2 linked regions of the Homo sapiens genome follow. The protein of the gene in region 2 interacts with the protein of the main gene of each other region in a pairwise test. Each region holds a gene or a part of one and is shown on either strand. Other genes may lie near its edges.

The links. Proteins that work in one complex are often made in the same cells at the same time.
Region 1: the proteins of NCK2 (region 2) and CIPC interact in binary tests that used the Homo sapiens proteins (3 or more experiments, as listed by UniProt).

The regions. Positions count from the first base shown.
Region 1 is NC_000014.9:77,111,758-77,115,257, forward strand, and holds part of CIPC (CLOCK-interacting pacemaker), read left to right. Parts: intron 1-1,667; coding exon 1,668-2,561; 3' UTR 2,562-3,500.
Region 2 is NC_000002.12:105,891,342-105,894,772, reverse strand, and holds the end of NCK2 (cytoplasmic protein NCK2), read right to left. Parts: intron 1,792-3,431; coding exon 1,597-1,791; 3' UTR 501-1,596; downstream 1-500. UniProt on the Homo sapiens protein: Adapter protein which associates with tyrosine-phosphorylated growth factor receptors or their cellular substrates. Maintains low levels of EIF2S1 phosphorylation by promoting its dephosphorylation by PP1.

The DNA of each region.
Region 1 (3,500 bases), on a different chromosome or scaffold from region 2:
GCATAACAGTAGCATTAGGAAGTACAGTCCAGTAAAATCATGGGAAAACAATGCATTAGATATTTTCCAGATCCATTTGCCTTGTAGGTCATCCCTAGAGAGGGCATGAAGTTTTGCTTCTGACTGAGCTGGAACAGGCTGATTTCTACTTCAAAAGACCTCTTGATTTTGGATCTCCTATGACAAGGAAATATGGTTTCTGGCCCTAGCATTGCTTGCCTTAGTATATTCCGGAGTATATTTGAACATCAAGAGGACTCTAGATCGTTCCAGCCTTTGCATGGGAAATGAACTGGCCTAAAGTTCCTAACCTTGCATCCAAGAAACTGAAATGTGTGCAAAATGGTGCGCGCATGTACATGTATGGGAAGACAGTTCGTAATGTTCTTCAGATAAATCAAATGACCCCACCTGACCCCACTGATGATGTGAAACTCTGTCAGGCTTGCCCTCTGCCTGGCTTTATCTATACTCAGATTTTGGGGACCAGGTTGGAACTGGATTGGCTTTCAAACATTGGAGACAAGTAGCCATGTCCTTCTTTATTAGATTTCGTCTGAATCAATACTTTAATTAAAAAATAATGTATAATTGAGGAGTAATAAACAAAGGCAGTATAGCAGAATGGCTCAGATGGGTTTTAGAGTCAGACAGAGGATGGAATCCTAACTGCATCACTTAGTAACTTGATGACTTAAAACAAGTTTTTTCGACTTTCTAAGCCTCAGTTCCCTGTTTATGAAGGGAAATGGTAACTGCCTCATGGGGTTTTAAATAGATTAAGTAACTCATGTAAAACATTACACATAGTGGTAACCTATAATCAGCACCAATACATGGTAGCTGTTATTATTTTGAATGGTTTTATGATTGTTGGATGTCACTGCCTTAAAAACAGGAACCCATAGACTCCTGACAATATGGGTTTTTTTCTTTTCTTTCTGTTTTTTTTTGTTGTTGTTGTTGTTTTTGAAACCAAGTCTTGCTCTGTCACTCAGGCTGGAGTGCAGTGGCGCAATCTCAGCTTACTGCAACCTCCACCTCCCAGGTTCAAGCGATTCTCCTGCCTCAGCCTCCCAAGTAGCTGGGACTACAGGCGCACACCACCAAGCCCAGCTAATTTTTTGTATTTTTTAGTAGAGACGGGGTTTCACACGTTGGCCAGGCTGGTCTCGAACTCCTGACCTCAGGTGATCCACCTCCCTCAGCCTCCCAAAATACTGGGATTACAGGCATGAGCCATCACACCTGGCCCAATATGTTACTTTTTAATCAAAAGTTATTTTCAGGTAAAAGAGGTTCCAGGTGTGACTAAATGAAGATACACTTTGGTGTAAAGTCACATTTTAACTTACACCAGGAAATCCATATTTTTGTTGTTTCAGTTGTGACCTTAGCTATGTCATTACTTTACCTACCCATTTATTTTTCTGAGTGATAGCACTTGAATAAAAATAGGTATTTCCTCCAGTTTTCCCTTAGAAAAAGTTTAAAAAGTATTTGTGATATCAGACACAAATAGATGTTCAAACCACTATGTGAGAGAAGCACTGTCCTTGAAATTGTTCTAAGCATTTGAGTATCCACTTGCCCCTTTGACAGAAGCTTCACTCCTCTATCCTTTCAGCAGTAATGAGTAGTGTGCTGCTCTCCTCCTTTGTCTTCAGGGCAGCAGCTCATCCCAGCTCCAGTCGTGGACTGTCCAGCCCTCCTTTGAAGTGATCTCAGCACAGCCACAGCTCTTATTCCTTCATCCACCTGTACCATCTCCTGTCAGTCCATGTCACACTGGTGAGAAAAAGTCCGACTCCAGGAACTACTTGCCCATTCTGAATTCTTACACCAAAATAGCCCCACATCCAGGCAAAAGGGGCCTTTCCCTTGGCCCAGAAGAAAAAGGAACAAGTGGAGTGCAGAAGAAAATCTGTACTGAGAGACTTGGGCCTAGCTTGTCTTCCAGTGAGCCAACCAAGGCTGGTGCTGTCCCATCCAGTCCCTCGACGCCAGCACCACCCAGCGCCAAACTTGCCGAGGACTCAGCTCTGCAGGGTGTGCCCTCTCTGGTGGCAGGTGGAAGTCCACAGACTCTTCAGCCGGTATCCAGCAGTCACGTGGCTAAAGCTCCCAGTCTGACCTTCGCTTCCCCCGCCAGTCCTGTCTGCGCATCAGACAGCACTCTCCATGGGTTAGAGAGCAACTCTCCCCTTTCACCACTGTCCGCTAATTATAGCTCACCTTTATGGGCTGCAGAGCACCTCTGCCGCAGCCCAGATATCTTTTCAGAGCAGCGGCAGAGCAAACATAGGCGCTTTCAGAATACCCTAGTAGTCCTACATAAATCTGGTTTGCTGGAGATCACTTTGAAAACCAAGGAGTTGATTCGTCAGAATCAGGCAACTCAGGTAGAACTAGACCAGCTAAAGGAGCAAACCCAGCTGTTTATAGAAGCCACCAAGAGCAGGGCCCCTCAGGCTTGGGCCAAGCTGCAGGCATCTTTAACACCTGGGTCCAGTAATACAGGCAGTGACCTAGAAGCATTCTCTGATCACCCAGCCATATAGCACAGAGGCATATTTTCCTGTTACTTGAGTGGTTCTTTTAGCTCATTTGCTGTTACCTACTCCTGTTTCCCAAAGCTTATGTAAGAGCTTTTCCTTCTAAACTTAAACTGTGTTGTGGTTCACTTAGGAAGCCACGTGCCAATACCTGGCTGCTGTCTTAACTCGTAGTCTGGGCACAGGATACATATGTCCCCGTCCCACTGAGGACCTCAGTTTGGGAGTGCCCTTGAGCCCCTTTTCCTTAGCCTGCAGGTGCTTCAATGGATCATGGGGCAAAGCAGGAGATGATTGTGTGGGGCTCTTCCTGCTGTCACCTCCCATCATCCCACTCTCTCACCAGGATCAAGGGTACAGTAACACGAATGAGCATACAGAGCAACACCTGTTGAGCCAGGGAGTAGGTGACACAAGGAAACCTTCATGGATCTTCCCTTGCCTGTCTTAGTCACAGAGAGAAATAAGAGGAGGTTGTTTGCATCCCACAAGGCATCGTACTAGTTGGGCGAGACCTAAAATTCCCTGGGCACAGGTTGCACCTGGGTGTGAGCACTTAATCACTCAACGCTTTGTTTTCTTACACTTGAAAATCAAGGGAAAGAGTAGTACCATCTGACTCCTACACTTTCATTACAAGTCAGATTTTTCTTAAACTAGCAGGCAAAAACAGTACTTCCAAATTTTAAGGTATGGAATGAATGCAGTACATCTGGAATTGTAGTCGATGAATTGCTTTTTTGACTTAGAAGCTGAAGAAAATAGACATAGCCGGCATATCTCATGGTCAGGAGCTGGACGATTCTGGTAACTTAGGCTTTTTTTCTCTCTTCTTTTGAAACAGTGTAACCTGTTTTATGTCTAAAAATCTTAAGGATAGTTTCAGTGGTTCCTGGGATGTAGTATAAGTTAACTCTGCTGCCATCTTGTTTTTTTTTTTTTTCC
Region 2 (3,431 bases):
ATGGGGATGATAGCAGGTCCCACCTCATGGGGCTGTGATGAGGAACAAATGGGGGCGCAGTGCATGGTGCAGAGGGAGCGCTTGATACGTGATTGGCCTAGGAGGGCACAAATGCCAAGTCATGTGACTCTGCACCCCCAGGGCCTGGCACATCAATATAAATGCTCCCGATCAAGAGGACAAATCGAGAGTTAGTCGTGGGGGACACATGGTGTGAGAGCGCTGGCTGCCAAGAGTTCAGCAACATATTTCTAAACAAATATTTTCCAAAGAGCAAAGTTCAGACCAAGCTTGAGATTCTGGGTTCCCTTGGGGTTTCACTAATTAAAACTCATTATTTCAATATACAAAAATGTGGGGGTAGAAAATGAAAACACACAAGTAATAAATGTTAAGCTCTTCTCTAAAAATGATTTCCACTCCGCAATGAGTGAATGCTTCAGTAATTACTCTCCCATGATTGAGTCTGAGTTTTCCCAAAGATAAATACACACAGAGCCTTGTCATAATACTTTTTTTTATTACAATATCCAAAAAACTGGGTATGCAAGTTTAGGGGATCTCAAGACCCCTTCTTCAATCGTAGGAATGTGCCATCTCAAGACGTTATATTTAAACTATAAAGAAGTTCAAATGTAAAGGAAAAAGAAAATGCAATTTCTTCATAAACATTCTGTGTGTCTCTTACTACCAATCACATACTCTTTTGTAAACCCTGAAAAATTTCCCTGTAAATAATATATATATATATAGTGTGTGTGTGTGTGTGTGTGCACGTGTGTGTGTGTATAAAGTGTTGGTAGCTCCCTTCCCCAAAGATCAGCTGTTTTCCTTAATCATCTGTATTAGTGTCAACAAACGGCTACAGATACATATTTCTTTGAGAATTAAATACATAATTGTGAGATTCAAACAAGCCGAAGGGCAAGAGGAAAAAGCACTATGTGGATGGCACATTTGGGGTAAATTACCAAAACATCTGTCTTTCTGAGTCACCGGTTCCCTCTTTTGCAGACTGCCTTTCCAGGAAATTCTTTATTGCAAGCACAGCCCCAAAGGCACTGGGCAGTCTCCTCACTGCCATCGCACCCGGTGGTTCCAGTATTGCTATCAGCAAACGTATCGGCTCCCTGCACAGTCCGGGAGCCATGTAAGGGCACAGGACATGGGCGAGGGCTGCTAGGACTGGGGCCATCGCACCTGCTCTGCCCAGCACGCTGAGTGCCCAGGACACGGGCGCTGCCGCTGGGTGGCCTTAGGCTCGCTCCTGCGCTCACAGGTGCCCTGCGTCTTTTTAAAGAGGGGTTCCATGAGCGGGAACGAGTTGAATGCACGAGCGCCACTTCCGATGGAAAAGGAATAATGTGAACTCGCCCTGCTCCTCCCCTCCTCTAAAGCTGGCCGGCCGGGTGGGCTCGAGTGTGGGTGTGAGGCCTGGATGGCAAATGGGAGACGAACCGACCAAGCGACCTGAACATAAAGAGAGACTCGCAGAGAAGCCGTCGGGGCCGTCCCCGCGGGAGGAGCCTCTGCCACAAGGCCGGGCGGGCAGCTCCACCGTGGGGCCCGGGAGGCGAGTGTGGGGCCGGGGCGCCGTCACTGCAGGGCCCTGACGAGGTAGAGCTTCTCCCCGTGCTCGCTGGTGAAGATGGGCGCCTTTTTGTAGTGTTCCACCAGCTCGTCCATGGTGTGGAAGCGCCGCTGCCCAATGCAGTAGACATTGTCCACGAGCTGCACCTTGAAGTGTTTGTTCTTCCCTGACGCTTTAAGGGACACGGAGAAGTCGCTGGGCTGGGGAGGAAACAGAACACAGTTACAGCCGGGCCACAGCGGGGAGCTGTGTCTAAATCCATCCACATCTCTTGTGCGTCTAAATCCAAACCACCCATTGCTCAAACACTGGGTCTCTGCTTTTTTTTTTTTTTTTGAGATGGAGTTTCACTCTTTTGCCCAGGCTGTAGTGTAGTGGCCCAATCTCGGCTCACTGCAACCTCCGCCTCACGGGTTCAAGCGATTCTCCTGTCTCGGCCTCCCGAGTACCTGGGATTACAGGAACCTGCCACCATGCCCGGCTAATATTTGTATTTTTAGTAGAGACAGGGTTTCGCCATGTTGGCCAGGCTGGTCTTGAACTTCTGACCTCAGGTGATCCCCACCCCCCTCCCAGCCTCAGCCTTCCAAATTGCTCGGATTACAGGCATGAGCCACCACGCCCAGCCGGGTCTCTGTTTTATATCTAGAACGGCATCTGATGTTCAGAAAGACCTGGAGGTAGTCCACGATTCTGAAATTCTGAACCAAAGAAAAAATAAATTCTGCTTAGCCCAGTTTCAGTGCTAAATGCGTTTTAGTTATTTGAAAAGTGCAAACTCATTATGGAATATACAGCACTTCACTATGGAATATACAGTGTTGCCCTGACTGCTCAAGAAATTTGCTGTTTTTCATTTCCCAAACTATTTTTTGATAAACTGGGAATTTATTAAGAGTGGTTTGCATGCAGGCAGTAGCTAGAAATTTTACTACTTCTGATGTCTAACCCTATTAGAAATTAAGACATCAAAATTTTTCTAATTCTTTTTTTTTTTGAGACGCAGTTTTGCTTTTGTTGCCCAGGCTAGAGTGCAATGGTGTGATCTTGGCTCACTGCAACCTGCGCCTCCCAGGTTCAAGCAGATTCTCCTGCCTCAGCCTCCCGATGTGCCACCATGCCTGGCTAATTTTTCTAATTCTAAGCATTTAAAAATATGAACAGCAGTGGAAAATTCCGGTCGCATTTTAAACATAGTTCACAATATCCCAGAGGAAGCTGAACTATGGTTTGATTACAGATTTTATTGAAAAATATTTAAATTCTGTGATGTGCCTTCTATTTCAGAATATTTTAGAAACATGTCATTATTTTAATTAAAATGTGTCTTTTATTGGCCAGGTGCAGTAGCTCACGCCTGTAATCTCAGCACTTTGGGAGGCCAAGGCAGGTGGATCACCTGTGGTCAGGACTTTGAGACCAGCCTGGCCAACATGGTGAAACCTCATCTCTGCTAAAAAATACAAAATTAGCCAGGCATGGTGGTAGTGTGCCTGTAATCCCAGCTACTTGGGAGGCTGAGGCAGGAGAATCGCTTGAACCTGGGAGGTGGAAGTTGTAAGCTGAGATCACGCCACTGCACTCTGGTCTGGGCAACAAGAGCGAAAAATCTCAAAAAAAAAAAAAAAAAAAAAAAAAAAAAAAAAAAATTGGTCTTTTATCTCATTTGCTGAAAAGCATGCAGGAAAGAAGATACTGAACGATAAATGTTCTTTGTACAAAAATATCAAGTTTTGATCAATTCATTAAATGAATAACAATTAGTTACTAACACATGCCAGGCAGGCGGTGCCCTGGATACATGTGTGTGCATGCAGGACATATGCTCTGTGACAATCTG